Linked DNA regions of Homo sapiens. The protein of the gene in region 1 interacts with the protein of each later gene in a biochemical or structural test. Each region holds a gene or a part of one and is shown in the gene's direction. Other genes may lie near its edges.

Evidence for each region.
Region 2: the proteins of AKAP11 (region 1) and PRKAR2B interact in far-western blotting, tested with the Homo sapiens proteins (one study listed by BioGRID).
Region 3: the proteins of AKAP11 (region 1) and PRKAR2A form a complex in vitro, tested with the Homo sapiens proteins (2 studies listed by BioGRID, with this or other methods).
Region 4: the proteins of AKAP11 (region 1) and GSK3B form a complex in vitro, tested with the Homo sapiens proteins (one study listed by BioGRID).

What each region holds. Positions count from the first base shown.
Region 1 is NC_000013.11:42,316,571-42,324,467, forward strand, and holds the end of AKAP11 (A-kinase anchor protein 11), read left to right. Parts: intron 1-957; coding exon 958-1,118; intron 1,119-2,517; coding exon 2,518-2,658; 3' UTR 2,659-6,691; downstream 6,692-7,897. UniProt on the Homo sapiens protein: Binds to type II regulatory subunits of protein kinase A and anchors/targets them.
Region 2 is NC_000007.14:107,038,930-107,047,913, forward strand, and holds the start of PRKAR2B (cAMP-dependent protein kinase type II-beta regulatory subunit), read left to right. Parts: upstream 1-5,775; 5' UTR 5,776-5,978; coding exon 5,979-6,285; intron 6,286-8,984. UniProt on the Homo sapiens protein: Regulatory subunit of the cAMP-dependent protein kinases involved in cAMP signaling in cells. Type II regulatory chains mediate membrane association by binding to anchoring proteins, including the MAP2 kinase.
Region 3 is NC_000003.12:48,767,528-48,775,814, reverse strand, and holds part of PRKAR2A (cAMP-dependent protein kinase type II-alpha regulatory subunit), read left to right. Parts: intron 1-2,706; coding exon 2,707-2,860; intron 2,861-8,287. UniProt on the Homo sapiens protein: Regulatory subunit of the cAMP-dependent protein kinases involved in cAMP signaling in cells. Type II regulatory chains mediate membrane association by binding to anchoring proteins, including the MAP2 kinase.
Region 4 is NC_000003.12:119,819,874-119,825,787, reverse strand, and holds the end of GSK3B (glycogen synthase kinase-3 beta), read left to right. Parts: 3' UTR 1-4,467; downstream 4,468-5,914. UniProt on the Homo sapiens protein: Constitutively active protein kinase that acts as a negative regulator in the hormonal control of glucose homeostasis, Wnt signaling and regulation of transcription factors and microtubules, by phosphorylating and inactivating glycogen synthase (GYS1 or GYS2), EIF2B, CTNNB1/beta-catenin, APC, AXIN1, DPYSL2/CRMP2, JUN, NFATC1/NFATC, MAPT/TAU and MACF1.

The sequences.
Region 1 (7,897 bases):
TTTTGGGTGTAAGTGGTTGCATATGGCATTTCCCCCCACTTTTGTCTGAAGAATGAGAGATTAAGAGCATGGAGCCAGACTGCCTGTGTAAATGTCCTGGCTCAGCCACTTCCCCACTGGAAGACTCTGGGGCTCTCTTTGCCTCAGATCTCTCACCTGTAGAATGGAGACAATAATAGTTTCTACCTCATAGAGTGGTTGTGAGGATTAAAGGAGTTTGTACATATAAAGAGCTTAGAACAATACTTAGGATGGAATATGTGCTGCACAGATGTTGCTGCTCTTCTTTATTTGAGATTTCTGTTTTTTTGTGGGGTTTTGTTTGTTTTTTGGGACAAAGTCTTGCTCTGTTGCCCAGGCTGGGTGGTGCAATCTCGGATCACTGCAACCTCTGCCTCCTGGGTTCCAGCGATTCTTGTGCCACAGCCTCCTGAGTAGCTGGGACTACAGGCATGTGCCACCACGCCTGGCCGGATTTTGTATTTTTAATAGCGCTGGGGTTTCACCATGTTGGGCAGGCTGGTCTCGAACTCTTGGCCTCAAGCGATCTGCCCACGTCGGCCTCCCAGAGTGCTGGGATTACAGGCCTGAGCCACCATGCCCAGCCTCATTTTTATTTTTATTGTAATGATAGCTTTATAGTTTTATTTTCTCTCTAACCCACTGGTCATAATTTATATCAAATTATGGCATTTATAGAACTTGAATTCAGTATGTTAAAATGATGTTTTATATTTTTGCAATCAATAAATGATCAAAGTTATTCCTTTGTTTTACATTATTTTGCCCTTTAGAAGTTTTAGTTGAGGTTATGGTGTGGTTAGAAAAAGATGGATATTTTTTTCACCATTCATTAGAATCCTAAGAACCAGAAAATATTTGTATCTACTTGACAACCAGAGTATTGAGAGTTAAATTGATGAGTTTTACTTTATATTGTTTACATTTAAATATTAGGTTTGGGGCAAGATGGAAAGACACTGCTAATTACGAATATTGACATGGAGCCATGCACGGTAGACCCCCAGCTAAGGATTATTCTTCAGTGGCTCATTGCCTCTGAGGCTGAAGTTGCAGAACTTTATTTTCATGACTCTGCAAATAAGGAGTTTATGCTAGTAAGTACCTACCTTACAGAGTGTGAGGATACATTTAACAGTATATGATGTTCTTGTCATGTGATTGGTCTAACAAGATGCCTGGTGATGGTTAAATTCTTAGGCTGTAGTGTCCAACAGTTTGGGTTCAGACATCAGCTCTGCCACTTTCTAGCAGTATAACCAGAGGCAGGTTCACCAGTCTGTCTCATTGCCCCTAACTGCACTATGCAAATGAATATAGAATCTACCTTACAGGGGTTTATGAGGATTAAATATAATGTTAAAAAAAATGCTTGGTCTAATGCCTGGCATAACACTAAGCTCTCAAAGGTAGATGCTATTAATAAGCATTGTGTGTGTTCCTATGAAAAAATTGAATTATTCTCTGTATTTAATTGATTTGTAATTGTACCTAATGATTAATATATCTGTTTCTCTGATAATCCAGTTTCATTTGTATGAGCAGCTGTCATAATTAAAAGCCGATAAAAGTTTAAACAAGATGCTTACTATGTGCCAAGTACCTTATTAGTCAAGATTTTCAGTTTACAGTCTTAAGGTTTTTGTTCCATAATTTTCTTTATCAGAACTTTCCTTTTGGGGTGGTAGAAATATTCGAATTGTGGTGTTGGTTGCATTCAACTTGGAGAACATACTAAAAACCATTGACTAGGACACTTTGGGTGAATTGTATGTTATGTGAGTTTTATCTCAATAAAGCTGTTTTTAAAAAGGTTAAGCATATATATGTTACACAAAATTAAAGTAGTTTTTCAGAATTTAACTTACAGATCTTTCAAAACTTAAGAGCTTTTACAGAACTTAGTAGAAAAAGAAATGAACAAAAGCATGTCGTGAGTGGTGACAACAGGATTTATTTAAACCTGTATTTATTTATTTATTTATTTGTTGTTTTGTTGTTGAAACATTAACATTCTTTAACTTAGAAAGCCATGTTTCCATTGAGGCTAGAGTGTGTATTCCAGAAAAATGCCACACTATATGTTGTGGAAGGAAAATCCACATCCTTTTATTGAGTTTGACGTTGTCTTTATTATTTTATGTCCTAATTGAGGGTGTGGCAGTTGTATTTAGTTAGGTGAAGAATTTCCTGTAGAAACTCAGCCTCTGCATGTCCATGCAGACTATTTGCTTGGTGAGGTTTGTGGAGCTCTGTCTCCAGCGATCCCAAAGTGTCATTCTCTGGAGGAGATGTGTTTATAAAGGGGAAGAAGGGAAAATGTTTAATTTGGGTAAAGGGGTAGCGGTTTAGAGGGGAAGACCTTGTTATAACTAGGAAACGGTATTTAATTGTAAACAGCAGGATTCTTAAGTTTCAGCTAATATTGAAAATAAAAATAAAAGCTTTGTTATAAAATTGTTTTTGGTTAATGTTTGACACATCTTTCTTTCTTAGCTTTCAAAACAATTACAAGAGAAAGGATGGAAAGTGGGAGACCTCCTGCAGGCTGTGCTTCAATACTATGAAGTGATGGAAAAAGCTTCCAGTGAGGAGAGATGCAAGTCGCTGTTTGATTGGCTCTTGGAAAATGCATAGAGCAAACCCCAAACCAGTATATTTTAGTATTTGTTTGGGGAGGGGAACAAGCCAATAAAGATGTTTAGGATAAAATTTGAATAGTGAATATTAACATCGTAAGTCAGTTGGGAGGCAAGTAAATATAGCTTTCTGAGCGCTTTGTGTTATCACTCGGTGTATATAGTTCATACTTTTGTAATCTGTCAAAATACTACCTTCATTTATTCTTCTATACACATGTGTAGTGTGTCAAGACCCTAAGAACATGTATTTGAAGGAAGGTCTAACCAGGGGGTTTTCAGGGGCATTGTCTGACCACATTCTTTTTGTATCCAAATAGTGCTGCTAGAAACTGCACTGAAGTGGCTGAGGATAGGTTCCAGTGATAGAGTTATAATTTTGCTCCTTTGCAAACAAATGGTATCTAATTAATAACTAGTCTGACATCAGAAAATAAAATTGAGGCTGATTTTTAAAAATTTCTAGTAGATTTTTGGCCTTTCCTGTTTTTAAAAATCAGTTTCATTTTCATATTTCATAGATCAGCTATTGGTAGCTTTTTGATTTCCCCAAACTATTTAATTTCTTAGCAGAAACATTAGTATTTTAGGTTTCTATAAACACTATAAGTGATAGTTTCCCCCATCCTTTCATTGACATTATTTGCCAATGCTGCCAGTCATTCTGGCATGAAAGGTGTGTGTGTGTGTGTGTGTGTGTGTGTGTGTGTGTGTGTGTGTAAGGGAGTACTTTAACCTTGCCAGTTTGTTCCCTCTTTTATTTTACTGTTTTCTTTTTAGAAACCCACTGTTAAAATTTAAAAAGGTGCTTTAAAATAAAACGCCTATAAAGATTGTGCAGTAAGAATTTTTATTGACAATAATTAAAATTTTTTTTGACAATTTTGGGTTCCCAACTTATCTTACAAGTGAAAACTTAAATTGTAAAACATGTTGAAATTTTAAAAATTAATGTTAATATGGAAATGCATTTAGAGAAGCCCAGTAGTTTTTATTGTTGGATTTTTGAAAAAACCTCTACCAAGAATGTGGTGTTTTTTTTGTTTGTTTGTTTGTTTGTTTTAGAAAAATTGGGATTTCCCCCCACCCCGCCCCACCCAGATAAACTATATCTACACTGTCTCGTCAAGTTCTCTGACACGATCTTTCTGGGCTCTACATTTCCTACTAGTTTGTGTCCAGAAACTGCAAGTTGACATGAATAGAGGACAAAGGTTGTGTCTTGCTTTTGTCTCTCTCTTCCCTCCCTGCAACTCTCTCTCCCCTCCTCCCACTCTCTTCCCCCTCCCCCCTCCTCCCACTGTCTCTCACCTCCCCCACCCCCCACTCTCTCTCATCTCTCGCTGTGTCCTGTGTATGTGTGGGTGTGTGTGTATTTGGGTGTGTAAATGTTGGTTCTTCCACTACTGGATTTTGTAATCTAGGATAAATCACTTTTTTTGGGGACTTTGATTTTGCTCCATTACGTTTTCATTTTTTCTGAGCACTGACTGTTCTGAAAGCTGCACAAAACGTAGAAAGAAGACATAGCGCCTGCCAGGGAATAGGAAATGAGGGCACTTACACATTAATGTGAATTAGTAATTGTGGTATAGAAATGTTTTATAGTGAAAGATTCAAATTTGCTTTTCAAGAAAAATGCCAAAAGCTATTTAAATAATTCGAGGTTACATCGTAGGTTTTGATTTTTCTCAATTTAAGATACAGAAATACAGCAAGCCTTAATATAAAGTTTCCTAAAGTTTCTTCAAGTATTTTTTAAGGTGGAGAAATGCAGGAATTGTATAACCAGAATTGTTCCTGCCTTTAGCTTTTCAGAACTTGAGATGTGGCAGCACTGGACTGGGTTTTTTTAAATGTTAGGACTAGGAATGTTTGCTCTTGTTAATTATGAATTAATTGATTATTAAGTTTAGAATGCATTTTTACAAGTATCTAACTATCAAATTGTGTTTAGTAACTTGAGTGTATGCACAAGTTTGATCAACAGCAAAATAGAGTTCTGAATTTCTTTTAAAGTGATGATATATTATTTTGTGAAACTTTGTGTTTGAAAATGTTTATTTCTGTTTATGGTGTAATCATTCTGAGGTGAGGCTTTTCTTATTTCCTTTGCATTTTGCTAGAGCTGTGCTGAGTTCAGCATTTGCTTATTTAACCACTACATAATGACAGACCAGTTATTAGGTATTAGCATGTGTGGTAATAATAATAGTGGAACTTCACACTTACATCAATTCAGTGCAGGGGCATAGAATAAAATATTAAATATTGGCAGATGTATGAAAAGAAGTGTGAGTTAAAAATATTGAATATTGGCAGGTGTGAAAACAAGTGTCAAAATTCCTCATATAGAGAAAATAATTTTGAGTTTAGAGTATTATCTTTTAATTAAGTGTAGTCTAAACTTAACTTTCTGTAAAGGCACTTTGTGGTTTTTCCAAAGATGTTCTAGATCTATTTGGTTGCTCTATAGTCAAACAGCTCTTTTGAAGACAACTGTCTTATTTTATTACAAATTGGCTTGACATATTTATACTGTAACATTGTAATATTGCTGTGCTGTACATTTTGGCCCTTACGAAATACGTCTTTTTCAGAACTGTTAAAGTTTTGATGTACATCGAGCTGAATTCTGTTTTTACCAGTTTCAAAACCTTCAAGTGATATGTGGAAAAAAGTGAATGAGACCTCTGATAGGGGGTTTTCAGAACCTTGTTCACACCAAAATGTGACAGTTCTTTCATGTTTTCCTAAACCAAGTTAAAATTACATGTATATTTTGGTGTTAAGGTTGATTTTTAAGATACTTCTGATTTGTACAAAAGGAATGTTTCCTTTATAAATCACAGAAGAAAATGACAATATCTGTTGGATATTTGATATAATTTAATGGTGTTATAAAACCTTTAAGAGGATTCATGGTGAATATATGTGATAACATCTTTATACTTTGAAAAATGTTCCACTTACCCTTCAGATATTTGTTGTAAGTTAATTCAATTCTTAATACTTTAATTTTGCTCCAACAAGGGCTTTATGTTGCTGGTAAGAGAATTTATTTACTAAATGCACTATGTATAAAGTGAAAGATAGTTTACTTATCTGACTTTGATATTAGATGGCTGACATTAGTGCACATAATGCAGAGTTTAACCTTGATTCTTCAACAGAGTCCAGATTTAAATGTCTACTTAGTTAATTAGTTAGCTGATATTCTTCCACAATTAATATATTCAATTTCCCATCAGTATATCACTTTAAATTTTATGTTTTTCTAAGGAAACTTTCCACAGAATTTTAAACAACTGATGCATCCATACTCAGGGTGTAGGGAGAATACTTTGCATTTAAAAACCCTGTCCACCTGTCACCAGCACAAGAGAATTAGAGCTTCAGTGAGAATTTAGAAAAATTATACTAAAGTGAGATGCATTTTTTCTCATTTTCAGCAAGACTCCTCTAAGCATTTACTCATTTACTGTATTCCTGCTCTGAAGATGTGGATACAGAATTAGTCACTCTTGTCACTTTATTTATTTATTGGTTTTTTTTTAACCATCTGTGTACATTCCTTTCATAGGGTAGAGTTCTAGTTCTAGAAGTTCTTATTTTGTTTTTGTTGTAATGTTTGAATACTATTTAATATCCGGTTTTAATATTGCTGGATTTGCTACCTTTGGTTACTTGTGCAGTGTTAAAAGTAATCCACTTTCTTGTTTAATATACCAGATACATAGCAAAAGCAGCTTGGAATAATTATAGCTGTTTATTTGGCTGTGCTCAGTTACTATATTAAGATCTTGTACTGTGTAACAGTAACTCTTTTTTGCTTTTCAGTAATTTAATATGTTCACTTAACAAAATACGAACTTTGAGATGCACTAAAGTTTTGTTTCAGCAGTGGCTCAAAAAATTTCAGAAATTACTTTTGTAATTATTTGCAATTAATTGTTCTTTTATCTTACAATTGTTTAAGCCTGTGATCTTTCTTCTCCCAGCTAAGAGTTCTTCAATAAATTTAAGAAATACCTGGTCTTGGTTTTCATTCTATAATATCTCATTAACTGCTCTGTACTGAGTGGGACTGCTATGACAGAAGACCACATAAGAGGACTGAAGTGCTAGATCATGGTTTTGAGAACAAGAGAAGTTAGAAATATTTCCAATTGGACACTAGATTCTACCTACTTATAGATACCCCAAATGCAGACATAGTGACTTAAAAGGCTGGTTGCCCAACCTGTTTTTGCAAAGTAGAATATTATGGTTGCCTTGAATATGAACATGGCTATGAAATTCTTCTGGCCTGGTTTGAACACTCTTTCCATAATAAGACCATACCTCTGTTAAACCATGTACACAAGATAACTTAAAAGCTGCTGGGTTTTTTTTTTTTTAATTACTAATGGATCTGACTTTGTCTTAAGAATTTTTTTCCTTTTAAATAGACCATTTTTAGAGCACTTTTATTTAGATGCACAGCAAAATTGAGCAGAAAATACAGAGCTCCCGTATACCCTCTTTGCCCAGCCTCCTTCGGTGTCAACACCCCACAACAGAGTGGGACATTTGTTACAATCTGTGGTCCTGCGTTGACACACACACCATTATCATCCACAGTCCATAGTTGACATTAGAGTTCACTCTTGTGCATTTGTAGGTTTGGACAAATACATAATTATATGTACATAACTGTAATATCATACAAATAGTTTTACTGTGCCCTATCTTAATGTAATTTAAGCCCAGAAATTAGGAAATTGTTTTAAAATTTTTTTCATGTTTTAAAATGCTAGGAAATAATAGCAAACAATGAGAAGGTTTGGTTGTAAGTGCACCCCAGTTACTAAGCAAACCAAAAGTGCTGAGAAGAAGTAAGCAAGATTCCATAGATTATAATGCCAAAAAGGAAGTATGGCTCAAAAAGAATGGGAAATGTGGCAAAGGACATTTGACAGTTTTACACAGAGGGATCATATGTGATTTGTATCTTAGCTAGGACAGAGAGGAAGGTGAGGGACAGGGCTTGAATTACCTCAGATTTTTTAAAGTGTGAGATGGAGAGGTCATTTATCTAAGGATGAATGTACTGTTGTTCCTATAATACAAAGAGTAAAAATCAGTGTTTTTGCGTCATTGAGTTTACAGCAAGAACAATAAAGAGTATATTTTGCACTTTTTTCTCTATCCTTTGTAATTTTATAGTCACCTCTCATTTTAACTTTTGGTCAAGG
Region 2 (8,984 bases), on another chromosome or scaffold:
GCTTCCTATTCAGCATGAACATAAGCTCTTCCTTAGTGAATCTAGCATAGTGGATCTCAAAGTGTGGTCCCGAGACCTACAGCCTAAGTATCACCTGAGTATTTGATAGACGTGCAAATTCTCGGGCCCCACCTCAGACTTACTGAATCTGAAACTCTGGGGGTGGGGCCCAGCAACTGTGTTTTAAGTAGCCCTCCAGGTGATTCAGATGCTTGGTAAAATTTGAGAATCACTAGTTTTCTAGCGGCAACCCTTTTGCGAAGTTGCACATAGAGATTAAACATTTTACTTACTTTTAGTCCAAATGTCTGTAAGATTTTCAGGCTATGAGGTGACCATCTTTTAGCAGGCATGTTGTGAAGTATCTGTACCACCTCTATAACATTGGGACTGTTCCCAATATTCGGGACTTTCCTCTGCTGAAGAGGCAGGCCTTATCATGTATTTATACTACCTGACCACTTCCTTATCTGGCACCCTACTGGCCACACTTACTAGACCAGTCAAGGCCAGGCAATCTACTAGATGGTCAAGACCAACTAACCTGATTCTCTCTTGAGAATATGAATCAGAGACACCAAAACTGTAGTCAGTGTTGAAATGCTAAAGGTACGTAAAACTGAGGCTGATGATCACAGTCAGCCTTGGGCAAGAACAGGCCCTGTATCCTCTCAATTGCCTCCTTTTTTTTCCTTGAGTGGGTATATATTTCTTGCACTCCAGAGACTTGATCAGGAAACACCTTAACTATTGACAGGAAATGCTGCATGATTGATTGGTCATAGTTATTATTCTGTACTGCTTGCCCAAGCCATTGACTTTGTTTTTTTGGCAGTTACATATAAGCAAGTTGATGGGTCTGTTTAATTTCCTGGTGTGAAAACAAATTTGATAGCACTCTTTTCATTTCAATGCTGAGCTCTCAGAGTTCATTTGCCATTGCTTCCAGTCTGATTCTCTGAGAAACTGGTGCAAATTGCTTTGCAAATCCACAACCAAAGAATCAGTATCAGTGATGCTCTTTTAAGGAATATGAGATACATAGTTCCCATAAGCCACTGTTCAAAAGGCTCAAAATGAAATATTCTGAAAATGAAAGCAAAAGAAATCATAAAATATTACCAAAAAGGTTATGTGGTAGTGAATAAAAGCCAGAATATGATTTGAGAAGTGAACATTTGTTCTGAGAACAATGCTAATGTAATGGGAATATCAGGACCAAGCTTTACTTTTTCAGGTCATGGTTATTGATTTAAGAACTGATGCAAATGAAAATTACCAAAGAGCTGTTTGCAAAGATGTTTCAAGTCCAATAAGTCTTGTTTTAGTATTATACTATTGTAAATCTCTCAGGATGAAAAAGACTATATAGGTCATCTAATCCAATTACGCATTTCATGCTTGAAATCATTGCTATATTCTTAAAGAAATGAGAACCACACAACCTTGGCATTGTGGTTGATGACAGAGAGCTATCTACCATGCTTCATATAATAAATCTACAAGAAGAAATAAATGAATTTGGAAACACAAAATGGCATTAACAAGATATGGCTCTTAATAATGTTTGGAAAAGTAGTGCTTTTTTTAATTTTGTCATTCCTAGGGAAAAGGTATTAGACATTGTGGCAGAGATTGATAATTATCTCCAGACTTTTTTTTTTTTTTTTTTTTTTTGAGACAAGGTCTTACTCTATCACCCAGGCCGGAGTACAGTGGCACAACCACAGCTCACTGCAGCCTTGACCTCCCTGGGCTCAGGCGCTTATCCCACCTCAGCCTCCCGAACAGTTACGACCACATGTATACCACCAAGCCTGGCCAATTTTTGTATTTTTTTATAGAGATGGAGTCTCCCTATGTTGCCCAGGCTGGTCTCGAACCCCTGGGCTCAAGCGATCCACCCTCTTTGGCCCTCCAAAGTGTTGGGATTACAGGAGTGAGCCACTGTGCCCGTCCAGACTTGGTTCTTTTTAATTCCCAAATGTTTACTTGGCACGTGACTGCTCAAAATAAATATTACATTTCCAAACTTTCCTAATAGCCATTGGTTTCAGTTGCTATTGCTGTGTAACAGATTATCTCAAAACCTAGAGGCCTACAACAACCTTTTTATTATGCTCACAGATTCTGTGGAACAAGGCTTCAGCCAGGGCATCCAGTACAGGGCTGGCTTCTTCTATCATGCTGACTTGACTTTTACAATGTTCTATTGGTCAAAGAAATCACAAGCACATTCAGATTCAAGGGGAGGGGAAATAAGACTTCAATTCATTAGTGAGTAGTGGCCACGCCACACTGTAGGAGATATTGTTGTAGCCGTCTTTGGAAAATGCAATTTGCCACACCAAAGGTGTGGCCATGTTGACTAAGTTCTAGCCAAGAGGATAGAAGAGGAATTGTGTTTAACTTCCTAGAAGGAAGGGAGGGGAGGGGAGCTTCCCTTCTCTTTTTCACTTTCCTCTTAGCTAAAATATGACTGGCCCTGGAGCAGCCATTTTGGACCACAGACAGGATCATAGAGCAATGAGCTGGAGGGAGCCTGGGTCCCTGATGATCATGGAGTACCACACTGTGTCCGGAATTGGTGGGTTCTTGGTCTCACTGACTTCAAGAATGAAGCCGCAGACCCTCGCGGTGAGTGTTACGGTTCTTAAAAGTGGCGTGTCCAGAGTTTGTTCCTTCTGATGTTCGGATGTGTTCGGAGTTTCTTCCTTCTGGTGGGTTCGTGGTCTCACTGGCTCAGGAGTGAAGCTGCGGACCTTCGCGGTGAGTGTTACAGCTCTTAAGGCGGCGCATCTGGAGTTCCTCCCGGTGGGCTCGTGGTCTCGCTGGCTTCAGGAGTGAAGCTGCAGACCTTCATGGTGAGTGTTACAGCTCATAAAGGCAGTGTGGACGCAAAGAGTGAGCAGTAGCAAGATTTATTGCAAAGAGCAAAAGAACAAAGCTTCCACACTGTGGAAGGGGACCCGAGCTGGTTGCCACCACTGGCTCAGGCAGCCTCCTTTTATTCTCTTATCTGGCCCCACACACATCCTGCTGATTGGTAGAGCCCAGTGGTCTGTTTTGACAGGGCACTGATTGGTGTGTTTACAATCCCTGAGCTAGACACAAAGGTTCTCCATGTCCCACCAGATTAGCTAGATACAGAGGGTCCACACAAAGGATCTCCACGTCCCCACCAGAATAGCTAGATACAGAGTGGCGATTAGTGCATTCACAAACCCTGAGCTAGACACAGGGTGCTGATTGGTGTGTTTACAAACCTTGAGCTAGATACATAGTGCCGATTGGTGTATTTACAATCCCTTAGCTAGACACAAAGGTTCTCCACGTCCCCACCAGACTCAGGAGCCCAGCTGGCTTCACCCAGTGGATCCCGCACTGGGGCTGCAGGTGGAGCTGCCTGCCAGTCCCGCGCTGTGCGCCTGCGCTCCTCAGCCCTTGGGTGGTCGATGGGACTGGGCGCCGTGAAGCAGGGGGCGGCGGTCGTCGGGGAGGCTCGGGCCGCACAGGAGCCCACGGAGTGGGGGGGAGGCTCAGGCATGGCGGGCTGCAGGTCCCGAGCCCTGCCCCGCGGGAAGGCAGCTAAGGCCTGCGAGAAATTGAGCACAGCAGCTGCTAGCCCAGGTGCTAAGCCCCTGACTGCCCGGGGCCGGTGGGTCCGGCCGGCCGCTCCGAGTGCGGGGTCTGCCGAGCCCACGCCCACCCGGAACTCGCGCTGGCCCACAAGCACCACGCGCAGCCCCAGTTCCCGTCCGCGCCTCTCCCTCCACACCTCCCCGCAAGCTGAGGGAGCTGGCTCAGGCCTTGGCCAGCCCAGAAAGGGGCTCCCACAGTGCAGCGGCAGGCTGAAGGGCTCCTCAAGCGCTGCCAAAGTGGGAGCCCAGGTAGAGGAGGCGCCAAGAGCGAGTGCGGGCTGTGAGGACTGCCAGCACGCTATCACCTCTCAATACCAACTCTGAACTGCCCACATTTAGATTCCAGAGAAATAAATCTTAAGCTATTGTATTTCGCATTTTCTGCCACATGTGAGCAGTGTTTATCATAATTAATACAAATATTATCACAAATTTAGACAGGTGATACACATGCATCTTAGATTACCAGATCCGTAAAAATAATAATGCTTACACGGTAGAGAGTAGTACTAACATTGTGCTCCAACCGGTGACATGTGAGGCTCACCATATTTTATAAAAGTTTAATTCTTTTTTTTTTTTTTTGAGACGAAGTCTCACTCTTGTCCCCCAGCCTGGAGTGCAACGGCACTGCACGATCTCGGTTGACTGCAACCTCCGCCTCCTGGATTCAAGCGATTCTTCTGCCTAAGCCTCCTGAGTAGCTGGGATTACAGGTGCCTGCCACCATGCCCGCTAATTTTTGTATTTTTAGTAGAGATGGGGTTTCACCATGTTGGCCAGGCTGGTCTTGAACTCCTGACCTCAGGTGATCCGCCCACCTCGGCCTCTCAAAGTGTTGGGATTACAGGCATGAGTGAGCCACTGCGCCCGGCCAAAAGTTTAATTCTTAAAATGCTCGACACAATTAGAAGCACTTAACTACTGTATATTTAAAGCAACGTAACATTATTACTATAAAGTTGTTAAGAAATGAAAATAGAGAAATACATTGGCTCATGGAGTCAATACAGGATGCATCATTAACAAAGGGTTAACATCAAGATCCATTTTTACAAGAGGGACTAGTTCGTTACATCTCTGATTTCTAGACTTGGAGTTTCCCCAGTCATGTGTTTACTCTTCCGTGGGTGGGAAGATAAATCAGAATAACCAAGTGAGCTTGCTCTTGAAATATTTTATTTACAATGATATGATAATTGTAGAAAATGAAGTATGCGTACTTAAATAGAATTTAATTGACAAAAGACAATTTTCTCTACTTCAAAATTGTAAACATTTGCAAAGTAAGCCTCATTTCAAAGTCAAAGCCTTCTACTTTAAAAGCACACATTAGTAATTCTATTTTTCTTTATACTGAAGTATTTCAATTTTTGGACATACAAGTCAAAAATCATTCAAAGCATAAAGGAAAGTTTCAAAATAATAAGCGCCTCATCCTGCACTATCCTATTTAAAAGAGATCAACTAACTTTGATAGGTGCCTCTCAATAAATGGTGCCTTTGTCTCAATAAATAGTAAATGCGTGGAGTGCACAACGGAATAGCATCAGTAAGACGAAACATAATAAACAGGATGGATCGGGAAAGGCTGGATAAAATGTGGGGAAGAAAAAGAAAGACGTCACAAAGATGGGGTAGCATTTCTTTGTCCAAAAGAGAACCAGTACCACCATAAGACTTTAAACAAAGGACATTAGCAACACTTATCATGCAACTAGATTCTAGAAGGAAAATAAAATGCCACTACTAAGGTGGAGGCTGAAGTTTCAAGACAAATCTCCTGGCACCACCTCTGCGGGGGTTCACCATGGCGAATGACGCCTGGGAAGCGGGGCGAGTGGCCAGCCCGCTCCTGGACGCGCGGACAGGTGGACACGAAGGCGGCCTCGCTGGGCCTCCCTCCGCCTCTCCCGGCCCGGGCGCGCAGCCCTGCGGTGGTCTGACAGGCGGGTGCGCGGCGCCAGCCAGCGGAGGTTGCCATGGTTTCCGGGGGTCACGTGGGCGCGCTCTCCTGCGCCCCCTCCCGCGCACCGCGGCGGGGCGGGGGCGGGGCGCCCGGGCGGGGGAGAGGCGCGGCCGCGGCTGGAGCGGGAGGAGCAGGAGATGCTGCCAGCCCTCCCGGGGCCGCGCTCGCTCAGCCGCCGCCACCACACGGAGCAGACGCGCGCCGGGAGCCGCGGGCCGGGCCAGCCGGGCCGCCGGGGCCCAGTGCGCCGCGCTCGCAGCCGGTAGCGCGCCAGCGCCGTAGGCGCTCGCTCGGCAGCCGCGGGGCCCTAGGCCGTGCCGGGGAGGGGGCGAGGGCGGCGCCCAGGCGCCTGCCGCCCCGGAGGCAGGATGAGCATCGAGATCCCGGCGGGACTGACGGAGCTGCTGCAGGGCTTCACGGTGGAGGTGCTGAGGCACCAGCCCGCGGACCTGCTGGAGTTCGCGCTGCAGCACTTCACCCGCCTGCAGCAGGAGAACGAGCGCAAAGGCACCGCGCGCTTCGGCCATGAGGGCAGGACCTGGGGGGACCTGGGCGCCGCTGCCGGGGGCGGCACCCCCAGCAAGGGGGTCAACTTCGCCGAGGAGCCCATGCAGTCCGACTCCGAGGACGGGGAGGAGGAGGAGGCGGCGCCCGCGGACGCAGGGGCGTTCAATGGTGAGGACCAGACCCCCCACTTCGCGCCCCCGGATCCCCTCGCTGCCCCCCACCGCTCCCCGCTGTGCTCTCGGATCTTGCCGCTTTGCGCACCCACCTCTCCCCGCATTCTCCACCTTTCCCTACCTTCCCATCTCGCCCACCCCCTCAGCATCCATTTCTGTCTCTCCCACTCGCCCACCTTCCTACTCCGCTCTCTGTCATACCCTCTTCCCTTCCTCTAGAGGTGGGAGAGCTGGGATGTTACGCTTCCCTCTTACCCTTTGCCCCCTCTGCCTGGGCCGGTTGGGGTGGGCATCTGCTAGAAAGACAACTTTCGCTGTGGTTGGAGGTATTTCGCTTAGAGGATACCATTGTGCATAAAGAAACTGGCCCGCTTGGCGTCTTCTTTCAGCCCTTGTATTTATTAATGGAATGTCGAAAGAGAAAAGGAGAACCGTGTTTAATATGATTGGCTTTACTGTTGTTAGGACGGTAGATTCGCTAAAAGAAGCATGAAATTGGACTCACTGGGGCAGAACAAAATTTATGGCCAGTAGCTCTGACATTCTTGGAAATAAGAGTTATCTATTATTTTCCAATTTACCAATACCGTGTTGTGTTATTTTTGGACACGTAACAAAGGATTCTATTTAGTCTGAAACCCACGGGGGTCTTTGGAACGAGGAAATGGGTTAATGGTTTGCTTTTTATATAAAAGACATATTGAATGATTTGGTGCTTTATTTTTTTAAAAGTGTATGAGAAAAACACTGTAGGAAGTTCTGAAAGCTTGTTGGTTGTCTTTAGAATGAAAAGCCAGTGAGTAATTGTAAGGATTGTGCCAGACAGTAGAGCTAGAAAGAATGAATGGGAAAGAAAAAGGAATTTTCTCAAATAGCTGCTCCTGGCAAGTCCCACCCCTTCTGCTTACAACCCTCTTTCCCTAACACACCCAGACACACACCCTCATTTACAGCCCCTTGTATTACACAACATGCCCAAATCTCATTTTTATGGCAACCCAAGCTAAAATACCATGGAGTGCAGTGTGCAAGTGTTTTCTCTTTGTGGTGTAAGGCAAACATGCATGCAGCATTGCACCAGCTTTTATTTATTTACACTGCTTGTGGTTTGTGTGTCCGCAGTGTATTTCATAAAATGAAAACATTTAAAAGTGTCATTTCATTTCCTTGTGTATGCTCCTAGGAAGATGTTTCTTTTCTTTGCAGGATTACATGTTGAAATGGATTATAAAATTAGTGTATTTTTAGTTTCTCCAAAAGAATCCCAGAAACCCTGGAAATTAGTGCGCTGTGAAGATAAAAGTGAAGCTTGTTACTTACAATTTTAATTTTGGACTTCTAAATGTTTCCCCAAGAGGATAAACATAGTCTTAATAATTCTTTTTGCACAAGAATCGAATCAAAAGCTTTTCCTACCAGAAACGAGAAAGAGAAAAGAATGCATGTTTTAAATAGGTAAGAAGCAGCAGCCAGTAACGGATGACAGAAAGGGCAGAGATATCTAATACTTCTTTTATGCTCCTGACATGTTCGTGCACACACACAAAGGGGAAAAAAAGGACTCTTTTCCCAGGTTGGAGAAAACTAGGAACTAAGGGGCTTGGTAAAGACCATATATATATATATATTCTGTATGATATGTTGTTAATATAATCAAAATATTTTGTTTGTATAATGCATTTGTTGAAGTACTTTGCATTGATGATTGCATTTTCTCCTTATAACAATATATTGCGCACAGAAAAGATTCCATTTTCATTTTGTAGTGAAGAAATAAGCCGTTAACTTCTGAACAGCAGGGGTCATTTTATATGGCTTTATATTCTCCAAGGCACCTTTGCTGTAAAAATTGCTCAGTGTGACTTAAACAAGTTAAACTTGTTAAACAATTGCACTATTTACTCCCTAGCCTCACCCCCAAGGACTTTAAAACTTTTTGACTGCAACCAAATACAATTTGATCATTATCCAGGAGGCACATACATCTGTATAACAGAAACTTTGGCAATAGTACAGGTACTTCCTTCTGTCAGATGCAGTGCTTTTTGATATTTCCTATTTGAATCAGTTATTTCTCCCTATTTTAAATTGTATTGAGACCTCCAGTTGAAAAACATTTAATTATAGGCTACAAAGTGATTGGCAAGGTTTCTTGTAAAGGGCCGGTTAGTAAGTGTTTTAGACTTAGGGCAACATGTGGTCTTGATCACTTCTTCTTCAGTTTTTTTTTTTAAACACATACACCTTCTGAGGGTTGCGGTTGTACAAAATTAGCTGCAGATCAAGGCCATAGCTTGCCGACCCCTGGTTAGAAGAAAAAAAAAAAAGTCAAAATAGTACCATTGGGGGAAAAAACAGGAGTGATCCTAAAAAGTATGAGCCTATCAGTTTGACATCTATGTCCAGAAATGTGTCTCATTAGAAAAGAACCCCAGATACTGGGCAATTCTGGCATAGTAAAGAATAAGGATTGGAAAACAAGTCTTAATTTACTATGACACAGCACAAGACCTGCTGGGTCAGTAATTCTGAAATTTTCATAGATATCTCAAGGAAGTTTGATTCAGAAATGACCATTACCCTGTACCATTTTTGGAGAGCTTTTTTAAATAGGTTGAGATGGGACATGATATCCTTTTCTTCCCCCTCAGTAGACATCCCACCCAGGTCATTCTGATATCAATAGTTCCATGA
Region 3 (8,287 bases), on another chromosome or scaffold:
TTTTAATGACTCCATAATATAGATAGAAACATGTATTTGACCCATCTCCTATTATTAGCAGATGAAATTACTTATAGTTTTTACTATTATAAATATTACCTGGTGAAATCCTGGCAATTAAATCTTTTGCAGTATCTTTGATTATCTCTCTTGGAATGACTAGAAATGGAATTGCAATATCAAAGGGTCTTTTTAAGGCGTTTGCTATATGTTTTAATTATCTTGCAGAAACTGAAAAGTTTATGTTTCCCTCAGTGGTATGTTGAGAGTGCCTATTTCTGCTTGTCAGTTCTGATTTTTTTTTTTTTTTAGCCATTATTGCCGATCAATAGATAAATAATTGTATCGTTTTGTTTGTTTGTTTGTTTGTTTGTTTTGAGACAGAGCCTCGTTCTGTCGCCCAGGCTGGAGTGCAATGACATGATCTCGGCTCACTGCAACCTCTGCCTCCAGGTTTCAAGTGATTCTCCTGCCTCAGCCTCCCGAGTAGCTGGAATTACAGGCACCCGCTACCCGCCCAGCTAATTTTTGTATTTTTAGTAGAGACGGGGTTTCACCAGATTGGCCAGGCTAGTCTCGAACTCCTGACCTCAGGTGATCCACCCACCTTGGCCTCCCAAAGCGCTGGGATTATAGGCTTGAGCCACCGTGCCCGACCTGCTTTGTTTTAATCTTTGTTTTAACAGACTATGAAAGAAAACCCATGCATTCATATCAATACCTACAGCAAAGCATTTGACAAAATTCAACATCTTTTTGTGATGAAAATGCTCAGTAAACTAGCAACAAAAATAACTTTCCCTAACTAGACTAAAGGCATTTATTAAAAACCTACAGCTAACATCATATTTAATGGTGAAAAATTGTTTTTTCTTACAACTCAGAATAAGGCAAGGATGTTTGCTTTCACCACTTCCACTTAATATTGTACTGGAGGTTATAGTCAATGCAATAAGGCAAAGAAAGGAAGAGAGGGAGGGAGGGAGGCAAGGAAAAAAGGAAGAAAGAAAGAAAGTGTGGCATAGTACACAATGAAATACCATTTGACCATAAAAAAGAAAGAAGTCATGTCATTTGTAGCCACATGGAGGTTGCTATATTAAGGTAAATAAGATAGGCACAGGAAGACAAATACCACATGTTCTTGCTCACATGTGAATGCTAAAGAACATTGATATCGTAGACATAGAGAATAGAATGATATATACCAGAAACTGAGAAGGGTGGTGGGTGGATGAAGAAAAGTTGGCTAATGGGTACAAACACACAGTTAGATAGAAGAAATAAATTTTAATGTCTTTTTTTTTTCCTTTTTGTGGAGAGAAGTCTCCATACGTTGCCCAGGATTGTCTCAAACTCCTGGGCTCAAGCAACCCTCCCAGTTTAGCTTCCTAAAGTGCTGAGATTACAGGTGTGAGCCACTGCACCTGGCAAGTTCTAATGTTTTATAGCATGATAAGGTGACTATACTTGGGTGACAATATTTAGCATATTTCAAAGTAACTATTAATAGAAGAGAGGACATGAAATGATACTGACACATAGAAAGGACATATATCCAAGGTGATGGATACCCCAGTTACCCTGACTTAATCATTACCCATTCTATGCATGCAACAAACACTCACATGTACGCCATAAATTATGTAAAATATTATATATTAATAAAAGAAAAAAAATTAGGCCGGGCATGGTGGCTCATGCCTTTAATCCCAGTACTTTGGGAGGCTGAGACAGGAGGATTGCTTGAGCCCAGGAGTTCCAGACCAGCTTGGGCAACATAGTGAGACCCCATCTCTACAAAAATAAAATATTAGCCAGGTGTGGTGGCACACGTCTGTGGTCACAGCTACTCGGGGCTGAGGTGAGAGGATTGCTAGGGGGCTGAGGTGAGAGGATTGCTTGGGGCCAGGAGGTGGAGGCTGCAATGAGCCATGATTGTGCCTCTGCACTCCAGCCTGGGTGACAGAGCAAGACCCTGTCTCAAAAAAATATATATGTCAAAAAATGTATATATGTGTATATATATATTTATGTGTATGTATATATGTGTGTGTGTGTATATATATATATGTTTAAGTTAAAGATGGGGGGAAAAAAAGGAAGGGGCATATAGATTGGAAAGGAAGTATTAAAACTTTGTTTCAGGTGACATGATCCTCTATGTAGAAAATTCTAGCCGGGTGTGGTGGCTCACACCTGTAATCCCAGCACTTTAGGAGGCTGAGGCGGGCGGATCACGAAGCCAGGAGATCGAGACCATCCTGCTAACATGGTGAAACCCTGTCTAAAAATACAAAAAAATTATCTGGGCCTGGTGGCGCGTGCCTGTAGTCCCAGCTACTCGGGAGGCTGAGGCAGGAGAATGGCGTGAGCCCAGGAGGTGGAGCTTGCAGTGAGCTGAGATACCGCCCCTGCACTCCAGCCTGGGTGACAGAGCGAGACTCCGTCTCAAAAAAAAAAAAAAAAAAAAAAGAAAAGAAAATTCCAAGAATGCCACAAAAAGGCTACTAGAATTAATAAGTGAGTTTAGCAAGGTTATAGGACACAGTACAAAGTCAAAATACAAAAATATGTTTTTTTTATATACTAGCAAAGTTCCATTGGAAATCTCTTAAAACAACATTTTCTATTATATGTACCTGCCAGTTCTTAACATTTATTATCAGAAGTAACTAATTAAATTATTCTTTGTCATTCTTCTAGGGGAACTTATGACATTTTAGTAACAAAAGATAATCAAACCCGCTCTGTTGGTCAATATGACAACCGTGGCAGTTTTGGAGAACTAGCTCTGATGTACAACACCCCGAGAGCTGCTACCATTGTTGCTACCTCAGAAGGCTCCCTTTGGGGACTGGTGAGTGAGAGAAATCGTTCCCCTTGCAAGGCACAGTATTAATTCCCTTTCTGTGTCTCTGTCCTTGGGCTGTTGATTTACACTATATCTTACAGCCATCCTGGCTAACACGGTGAAACCCCATCTCTACTAAAAAATACAAAAAAAATAGCCAGGTGTGGTGGTGGGCATGTGTAGTCCCAGCTAGTTGGGAGGCTGAGACAGGAGAATGGCGTGAACTCGGGAGGTGGAGCTTGCAGTGAGCCGAGATCGCGCCACTGTACTCCAGCCTGGGCGACACAGCGAGACTCCGTCTCAAAAAAAAAAGCACTTTATTGTGACATCCTGATGTTAAATTAAGAGTGCTCCTGAAAGAGATACAGTGACTTAAGGATAGGTCACACACTTGGGGACTCAATGATTGAAAAACTCAAGAATAGATTTGTATAGGGGAATAATAAATAATGGGGGCCAGGCACGGTGACTCACACCTGTAATCCCAGCACTTGGGGAGGCCAAGGCGGGAAGATCACTTGAGGTCAGGAGTTCGAGACCAGCCTGAGCAACATGGTAAAACCGTGTCTCTACTAAAAATATGAAAATTGGCCAGTCATGGTGATGGGCGCCTGTAGTCCCAGGAGGCGGAGGTTGCAGTGAGCCAAGATCACGCCACTGCACTCTAGCCTGGGCGACTGAGCAAGACTCCATCTCAAAAAATACAAAATCAAATAATAAGCCTTGGTGCTAACTACTGGTTCAGACCAAGATGGAATAGCCCTATTCCATGCTAGTGTTCTCACTTAAAAACTTAAACACACACACAAACAACTATGGACATAATAGAGCAAACATAGGAAGACTCTGAAAGGTGGAAAGAAGAAGGCAGACTATCTAGGGATATTGGGGCTTGAGGAAAGACATGACAGTGAGTTCCCAGGTTCCCATATATCCCAGATGGGGTGCTGGAAAGCCTGAAATCCAGATCTTCTAACAGGTATATTCAACAAAAGCAAAACTCCATCTCAAAAACAAAACAAAACAAAAGAACGAACAGCTAAACAGAAAATCAGCTAGTGTCAGCTAGGATATAGAAGAACTTAACACCATTAATTAACAAAAGCTATCTGAAATTTATAGAACACTGCACACAGCAACAACAGAATGAACATTTTTTTCAAGCCCATGGAACATTCACCCAAATAGGCCATATCCTGGAATATAAAATAAAACTTAAAAAATGTAAAAGATTTGAAATCAGGCCAACCACAGTGGCTCAAGCCTGTTATCCCAGCACTTTGGGAGGTTGAGGTGGGAGGATTGAGTCCAGGAATTTGAGACCTACCTGGGCAGCATAGTGAGACCACATCTCTATTTAAAATTTTAAGAAATAATGAAAATTTAAAGAAAAAATGAAATCAGAATGTGTTCTCTAACTACAATTGAAAGAAAGAAACTAAAAATCAATAACAGATCTCCAGACACTTAGAAATTAAATAACATTGTTTTTGGTGTGAGCAGGGGCTAACTGCAGCCTTGACCTCCTGAGCTCAAGCAATCCTCCCACCTCAGCCTCCCAAGTAGCTGGGACTACAGGTGTGCACCACCACACCTGTCTTTTTGTTGTTGTTGTTGTTGAGACAGAGTCTCACTATGTTGCTCAGGCTGGTCTTGAACTTCTGGGCTCAAGCAGTCCTCCTGCCTTGGCCTCCCAAAGTGCTGGAATTACAGGCATGAGCCACTGTGCCCAGCCAAATAACACATTCTTTCTTTTTTTTCTTTTTTGAGATGATCTTGGCTCACTGCAACCTCTGCCTCCTGGGTTCAAGCGATTCTCCTACCTCGGCCTCCTGAGTAGCTGGGATTACAGACGTGTGCACATGTGCCACCACGCCCAGCCAATTTTTGTATTTTTAGTAGAAATGGAGTTTCACCATGTTGGCCAGGCTGGTCTCGAACTCCTGACCTCAGGTGATCTGCCCACCTCGGCCTCCCAAAGTGCTGGGATTACAGGCAAGAGCCACCGCACCCGGCCAAATAACCCATTCTTGGATAATCTCTAAGACCAAGTCTCAATGAAAATTGAAAACTGTATATTGAGCTGTAAAACCACCTGCTTTGTGGCTGGGGTATGAGGATTAAATACATGGGCATAAGAGAAGTGACTCCCTTAGTGCCTGGTACAAGGTGGGTGTTCACAGAATGATGGCACAAGCTCCCCATGGCCATGGTGCTACTCACCACCCTTCTTTTCCTGAGACTTCCTTTCCTAAGACTCCTATTCTTTCTATTTCCTTGCCTTTGGCAGTCATTTCCTCTTCTCCTTGCTTTCTTAGGTCAGTGACCTATCAAGATATCCTTTTGGCCTCTACTTTTCTCCTGTTAATTGACTTGCTTTGCAAGCCCAGACTCTTCCAAAGCTTCAATACCACCTCTAGGAAAGTAACTCACAGAAGGTCCTCTCCAGCCTGACTTCTTCTTTGGCCTTGGAAATGCCTTCTGAGGTTGAAGTAGGGAGGATCTGGTGTCGTCACTGAGTTTTTCAAGTTGGATCCTACATTCCTGCTTTTATAATGGGCAGCTGCCATCACGGCCCCTATACGTAGTCTCTTTTGCTTTCTCTTGCTTTATTGAAAGTCAATAGAAGGTTTCCTGGGAAATTCCTGCAGTCACAGGAGAGAGTAGCACTCCTTTTCTCTTTTGAACTTCAGGGGTGTTTGCTTGCCTCTGACCACTTGCTGCCTGTGGGAATTTCCTCTTCACTGCTCGATTGGATGCTCATCAAAGGCTATGTTGATGTCTGGTGCTTTTTTTATATTCTCCACAGCCATGGGAACTGGCCTTGCACCACATGAAAAGAGAGTTTTGGGAAGTGTTAAAGCATGCGTAAAAAGGGGTAGAACCAGCTGGGTGTGGTGACTCATGATGTAATCCCAGTACTTTGGGAGGCCACGGTGGGCAAATCACATGAGCCTAGGAATTCAAGACCAGCATGGGCAACGTGGTGAAACCCTGTCTCTATGAAAAATAAGAAATTAGCTGATGTGGCGGCACATGCCTGTAGTCCCAGCTACTTGGGACGCTGAGTTGGGAGGATCACCTGGGCCTAAGAGGTCAAGGCTGCAGTGAGCTGTGATCATGCCACTACACTCCAGCCTGCTGAGTGACAGAGTGAGACTCTGTCTCAAAAAAAAAAAGTCGCTTGCCGGGCGTAGTGGCTCGTGCCTGTAATCCCAGCACTTCGGAGGCCAAGGTGGGCAGATCACCTGAGGTCAGGAGTTGGAGACCAGCCTGACAAACATGGAGAAACCCTGTCTCTACTAAAAAATACAAAATTAGCTGGGCATGGTGGCGCATGCCTATAATCCTAGCTACTCTGGAAGCCAAGGCAGGAGAATCACTTGAACCTGGGAGACGGAGGTTGCGGTGAGGCAAGATTGCGCCATTGCACTCCAACCTGGTCAACAAGAACGAAACTCCATCTCAAAAAAAAAAAAAGTCGCTGTAAGAGATATTTGTTGTGGTCGGGCACAGTGGCTCACGCCTGTAATACCAGCACTTTGGGAGGCCAAGGCGGGCGGATCATGAGGTCAGGAGATTGAGACCATCCTGGCTAACACGGTGAAACCCCGTCTCTACTAAAAATACAAAAAATTAGCCGGGCGCGGTGGCAGGCGCCTGTAGCCCCAGCTACTCAGGAGGCTGAAGCAGGAGAATGGCGTGAACCAGGGAGGCGGAGCTTGCAGTGAGCCGAGATTGTGCCACTGCACTCCAGCCTGGGTGGCAGAGCGAGACTCTGTCTCAAAAAAGAAAAAAAAAAAGAAAGATATTTGTTGTTTTCTCTTTAGTTAGAAATCTGTTGTTGTTGTTGTTGTTTTTGAGATGGACTCTTGCTCTGTCATCCAGGCTGGAGTCCAGTGGCATTATCTCGGCTCACTGCAACCTCCGCCTCCAGGATTCAAGCAATTCTCCTGCCTCAGCCTCCTGCATAGCTGGGATTATAGGCATGTGCCAACAGTACTGGCTAATTTTTTATATTTTTGGTAGAGATGGGAATTCACCATGTTGGCTAGGCTGGTTTCGAACTCCTGACCTCAAGTGATCCACCCACCTCAGCCTCCCAAAGTGCTGGGATTACAGGCGTGAGCCATGCGCCCAGCCGAAATATTGTTTGCTATTGCAATTGTACTAATCTTTGTTACACTGTAGGTGGATTTGTAAAATATTGGGAGTTAACTTTGCTGCCCTCTGTGTATTTTTTAATATTTATTTATTTATTTATTTTGAGACGGAGTCTCTGTTGCCCAGGCTGGAGTATAGTGGTGTGATCTCGGCTCACTGCATCCTCTGCCTCCAGGGTTCAAGTAATTCTCATGCCTCAGCCTCCCAAGTAGCTGGGACTATAGGTGTACACCACCATGCCCAGCTAATTTTTGTATTTGTAGTAGACACGAGATTTCACCATGTTGGCCAGGCTGGTCTCGAACTCCTGACCTCAAGTGATCCACCCACTTTGGCCTCCCAAAATGCTGGGATTATAGGTGTGAGCCACTGTGCCAGGCCTTTTATTTTATCTATCTATGTATCTATGTATGTGTGTGTGTGTGTCTGTCTGTCTGTCTCTCTGTCTGTCTATATCTATCTATCTATCTATCTATCTATCTATCTATCTATCTATCTATCTTTTGAGACGGTCTCACTCTGTTGGCCAGGCTGGAGTGCAGTGGTGCTCTCACACCTCACTGCAACTTCGCCTCCCAGGGCTCAAGCAATCCTCCCACCTCTGCCTCCCCAGTAACTGGGACCACAAGTGCACGCCACCACGCCTGGCTAATTTTTGTATTTTTTGTACAGATGGGTTTCGCCATGTTGCCCAGGCTGTTCTCAAACTTCTGGGCTCAAACAATCCACCCACCTCCCCACCTCAGCCTCCCAAAGTGCTGGGAATACAGTCGTGAGCCACTGTTCCCAGCCTGTATGGGTTTTTTTTAAATAAATAAATAAAATATTGGGGTTTTCTGTTTTTGTGGGGTTTTTTTGTTTGTTTTTTTTTTTGAGATGGAGTCTCGCTCTGTCTCCCAGGCTAGAGTGCAGTGGTGTGATCTTGGCTCACTGCAACCTCCACCTCCCAGGTTCAAGCGATTCTCCTGTCTCAGCCTCCCTAGTAGCTGGGACTGCAGGCGCGTGCCGCCATGCCCAGCTAATTTTTTGTATTTTTAGTAGAGACGGGGTTTCATTGTGTTAGCCAGGATGGTCTCGATCTCCTGACCTTGTGATCCACCCGCCTCAGCCTCCCAAAGTGCTGGGATTATAGGTGTGAGCCACTGCGTCCAGCCTGTTTTTGTGTTTTAAATAGAGTTGAGGTCTCATTGTGTTGCCCAGGCTGGTCTTGAATTCCTAGCCTCAAGCGATCCTCCTGCCTTGGCCTCCCAAAGTGCAGGGATTACAGGC
Region 4 (5,914 bases), on another chromosome or scaffold:
AATGTGAACTGTAACAGTCATCTACTGGTTTATTTTTCATATTTTTTAATTGAAAATTGAGCTTGCAGAAATAGCCACATTCTACACATAGTTCTAATTTTAAATCCAAATCTAGAATCTGTATTTAATTTGTTTTTTAACCTCATGCTTTTTACATTTATTTATTGATGCATGTCAGATGGTAGAAATATTAAAAACTACACATCAGAATGATACAGTCACTTATACCTGCTGACTTTATAGGAAAGCTGATGATATAAATGTGTGTATATATGTTATATATACATATATTCAATACTGCCTTTTTTTTTGTCTACAGTATCAAAATTGACTGGTTGAAGCATGAGAAGAATGTTTCCCCCACACCCAGTTAAGAGTTTTTGTGTCTGTTTTCTTTGTGTATCAGTGAACGATGTTAAGAATCAGTCTCTCTTTTTGAAGAAAAAGCAATATTCCTTGGAAAGCAAGGAGAATTGAAGGACTATGTTTGCCGTGAGGAAATAGATTTTCATGACTAGTTTGTTTTATACTTTTAAGGTTGGCATCTATGTGGGCCTTATATACTCTAAAATGAACTTTAGTCACCTTGGTGCTTATGGGCCATTACTTGACCTATGAATCTTTAAGGCACAATCAGTTGTACTTTACATTTAAAGATCACTTGAGTGATGGCCGCCTTTCCCTCCTACCCGCTCCTTCCCCACATGCCTTCCAAGGTTAGCTGGTAACTGTAGGGCTGCAGAGCTGAGCCCATGGTTGTGTGTAACTTGCCCTCACCCTCCTCATTGCCACCTTAGGTCACTTTATGGGTCTCGTCCTCCAGAGGGTTCGGAAGTGGAGTCTGTTGGCAGCCCTCCTGCAGGCCCTAGCACCCTGTCCTGCTCCTTAACTGTGTGTGTGACTCTCCAAGAGAGTTGTCCTGCCTGCTGAAGTGAACCAGTACCCAGAAAGACAACTGTGAGCCATCTTGGTTTTCACTCGCTGTTTAGCTGAGGTCTTGGGCCACAAAAGGGGTTTCACAAACCTCTGGATATATCAGAGTTTATGAGAAAGGAAACATGCTCAGTCAAACCAAATCAAACAAATTGAATTTTATGTTTTATAAAGTGCTTCTGAAAGCTAAGATTTGAAAGAAGTCTGAAATCAAAGTATTTGGCAGCATAACTCCTTAAAGGTAGTGGCGTTGATAGACCATTTTCAGACAGAATTTATAAAGAATCTGAAAAGGCAGGTCTGTGATAGAGAAATGGACCTGCATTCAGATCCAACTGCCCAGCAAGCGTTTGGATGCAGACACTGCTCTGGACGTGGTATACTCCCCAGAGTCCATAAAAATCAGTGCTTATTTTAGGAAACAGGTTGCCCCCCACAACTGGGGTAAAAGAAGAGAGAAAAGTCACGCTTTTCTCTCATTTCATTGTGTGTGCATGTGTGCGTGTGTGTGTGTGTGTGTGTGTGCTGAGATGTGTGATTTTTCTTTCTCAAGGATCATGGTGGGATCACAGAACTCTTTTATACAAGTGAGATCCAGGTCTCTGAATATCTTTTTGTATATAATAATAATAAAAAGCTCCTCACCAAATTCAAGCTTGTACATTATATTTTCTTTCTGTGTTTTTAAATTTAAGTTTTATTGTTTTGTATGTAAATATGTGGACCCAGGAACTGTTATTAATGAGCAAAAAGTTACTGTTCAGGGCAGTGATTCTGTTTAATAATCAGACAAAATGTAGACGAGCTTTTTAAAGCCATATAGTTTTAACTCTGTACAGTAGGTACCGGCCTGTATTATTGTAACAATAACTCTAGCAATGTATAGTGTATCTATATAGTTTGGAGTGCCTTCGCTTCCATGTGTTTTTTTTTTTAATTTGTTCTTTTTTAAATTTTAATTGGTTTCCTTTATCCATGTCTCCCTGTCCACCCCCTTTCCCTTTGAAATAATAACTCACTCATAACAGTATCTTTGCCCCTTCCACAGTTAAGTTTCAGTGATACCATACTCAGGAGTGGGAAGAGGAAATCATATTCGTAATTTCATTTCGTTGAAGCCCTGCCTTTGTTTTGGTTCTGAATGTCTTTCCTCCTCGGTAGCAGTGAGACCGGTTTCATTTCATACTTAGTCCATTCAGGGACTTAGTGTAGCACCAGGGAGCCCTAGAGCTGGAGGATATCGAATAGATTAAATTTTGCTCGTCTCTTCCACAAGCCCTAACCATGGGTCTTAAAAACAGCAGATTCTGGGAGCCTTCCATGCTCTCTCTCTCTCCTCTTTTATCTACTTCCCTCCCAAATGAGAGAGTGACAGAGAATTGTTTTTTTATAAATCGAAGTTTCTTAATAGTATCAGGTTTTGATACGTCAGTGGTCTAAAATGCTATAGTGCAATTACTAGCAGTTACTGCACGGAGTGCCACCGTGCCAATAGAGGACTGTTGTTTTAACAAGGGAACTCTTAGCCCATTTCCTCCCTCCCGCCATCTCTACCCTTGCTCAATGAAATATCATTTTAATTTCTTTTAAAAAAAATCAGTTTAATTCTTACTGTGTGCCCAACACGAAGGCCTTTTTTGAAAGAAAAATAGAATGTTTTGCCTCAAAGTAGTCCATATAAAATGTCTTGAATAGAAGAAAAAACTACCAAACCAAAGGTTACTATTTTTGAAACATCGTGTGTTCATTCCAGCAAGGCAGAAGACTGCACCTTCTTTCCAGTGACATGCTGTGTCATTTTTTTTAAGTCCTCTTAATTTTTAGACACATTTTTGGTTTATGTTTTAACAATGTATGCCTAACCAGTCATCTTGTCTGCACCAATGCAAAGGTTTCTGAGAGGAGTATTCTCTATCCCTGTGGATATGAAGACACTGGCATTTCATCTATTTTTCCCTTTCCTTTTTAAAGGATTTAACTTTGGAATCTTCCAAAGGAAGTTTGGCCAATGCCAGATCCCCAGGAATTTGGGGGGTTTTCTTTCTTTTCAACTGAAATTGTATCTGATTCCTACTGTTCATGTTAGTGATCATCTAATCACAGAGCCAAACACTTTTCTCCCCTGTGTGGAAAAGTAGGTATGCTTTACAATAAAATCTGTCTTTTCTGGTAGAAACCTGAGCCACTGAAAATAAAAGAGACAACTAGAAGCACAGTAGAGTCCCAGACTGAGATCTACCTTTGAGAGGCTTTGAAAGTAATCCCTGGGGTTTGGATTATTTTCACAAGGGTTATGCCGTTTTATTCAAGTTTGTTGCTCCGTTTTGCACCTCTGCAATAAAAGCAAAATGACAACCAGTACATAAGGGGTTAGCTTGACAAAGTAGACTTCCTTGTGTTAATTTTTAAGTTTTTTTTTCCTTAACTATATCTGTCTACAGGCAGATACAGATAGTTGTATGAAAATCTGCTTGCCTGTAAAATTTGCATTTATAAATGTGTTGCCGATGGATCACTTGGGCCTGTACACATACCAATTAGCGTGACCACTTCCATCTTAAAAACAAACCTAAAAAACAAAATTTATTATATATATATATATATATATATAAAGGACTGTGGGTTGTATACAAACTATTGCAAACACTTGTGCAAATCTGTCTTGATATAAAGGAAAAGCAAAATCTGTATAACATTATTACTACTTGAATGCCTCTGTGACTGATTTTTTTTTCATTTTAAATATAAACTTTTTTGTGAAAAGTATGCTCAATGTTTTTTTTCCCTTTCCCCATTCCCTTGTAAATACATTTTGTTCTATGTGACTTGGTTTGGAAATAGTTAACTGGTACTGTAATTTGCATTAAATAAAAAGTAGGTTAGCCTGGAAATGAAATTAAAATTCACAAGTGTGTGGTCTTTATTTCAGTACCCAACCCTCTTCCTTCACCCTACTATTTTGCCGCTGCAATATGTAGTCACATCACCATTTCCATTCCTCTAATTAGGGAAACATTAATCTTTGTTATACAGAACAAGATATCAATACCACTTCTTGTTCTTTCCAATGATTTTATTCCATTGTGTAGCCCCAAGAGGTGCAGCTTCCACCTTGGAAACCTTTGGATTTGATGTAGAGGAAGCTTTGCAGACACTGCTTAGAAAAGAAAGAAAACAACTCTGAAAGGGACAGTTTTTAAATGTGTATAAGCTGCTGTCTTTGATTACTGTGTTCATGATTTGGTGTGGCTGTATTTTCTTTTAACTTTCATCCTATTAGTAATGGTCTTTGGGGGTCTCTGTAAAATATATGGACACCACGAACAGTGGGGCTGTACCTCCCAGGTAACCAACACATGTTGTGTTTGAGTCTGCTCATTTCCAATACTGGATGATGTATGTAAACATGTTATGTCTCTTAGTGCAAAAAGAAACATCATTTTTTTAGGGCTGGCTCACTCTGTCAGGCCTAATCTAAAGGCTAGATATAAGGTCATGTGACTGCTGCTTCAATAAAAACAAATTTATATTCGATAAAGTGTGGTCCTCTTATTTATTTACTGTGGTGGTGGGGTTGGCTAATTCCAACATTGGTAAAACAGTTAAACACATTTAACCAGTAGGGGCGGCAGGGGAGGATTGGATTAGCAGAAACAGAAGTTACTTGTGCGATGCGCCTCCTGCTGGCACTGAAGTGCATTTGTTTGGGATTTGCTGCTGTCTTGCATAGGTTCTGGGATTGAGTTAAATATTGTGTTAGTGTCCTGCAAGACCTTTTAATTTAGAATCCTGAAAGACTGCCTTTTTAGTTTCTTTTCTTTTTTTTTTTTTTTTTTGAGACGGAGTCTCGCTCTATTGCCCAGGCTGGAGTGCAGTGGCGCGATCTCCGCTCACTGCAAGCTCCGCCTCCCGGGTTCACGCCATCTCCTGCCTCAGCCTCCCGAGTAGATGGGACTACAGGCGCCCGCCACCACGCCCGGCTAATTTTTTGTATTTTTAGTAGAGACGGGGTTTCACCGTGTTAGCCAGAATGGTCTCGATCTCCTGACCTCGTGATCCGCCCACCTCAGCCTCCCAAAGTGCTGGGATTACAGGCGTGAGCCTCCGCGCCCGGCCCCTGCCTTTTTAGTTTCTAAGTCTTTCCAAAAAGTACTGACCAAACAGTCCTTCGGGATCATATTTCAGGAGAGCAGTGATGGTAGATGTCATTTCGTTTTTTTTTGTTTTGTTTTGAGACAGAGTCTTTCTCTGTCGCCTAGGCTGGAGTGCAGTGGCGCAACCTCGACTCACTGCAACCTCCGCCTCTCGGGTTCAAGTGATTCTCCTGCCTCGGCCTCCTTAGTAGCTGAGACTACACCACGCCCGGATAATTTTTGCATTTTTAGTAGAGACAGGGTTTCACTTTTTTGGCCAGGCTGGTCTTGAACTCCTGACCTCAAGTGATCCGCCTGTCTCAGCCTCCCAAAGTGCTGGGATAACAGGCATGAGCCACCGTGCCCAGCCGGTAGATGTCATTTAGAAACGTGTTCTAGGAAGGTAGTGAGGAAAGGAGAGATTAGCTTTTAGATCCCTGTCATTGAGAAGTTTGTGAAAGGAAGTAAACAGAAGTGTTGGGATGGTCACACATTTCTCAAGTGTAGGAATATTTCACTCATCACCACCATCAGATTTAGGAGAGCTGAAGGACATAAAGGGAAACCTACCAGGAAAAAACAAGCTGCCGTGGAAGATGGCATAATGAGGCCCACAAGTTAGGAGTCAGGAGCTGGGAAGCCATGGATAATCATACGTATGTTTCTCCTTACATCCTCTTTCTCCAGAAGGGAGTGGCCACTCTGGCCCTTCCCACAGATTTGTCATCAATGTCAAGACTTAATTAGACAAAGTTCTGGGCTAGGTAGAGAGAGGCTGTTGAGTGGCCCTGACTAATGAGGGGGCAGATGGTAGCAGTAGCTTGCTTAGGTCTTTTGCCCTGAGCTTT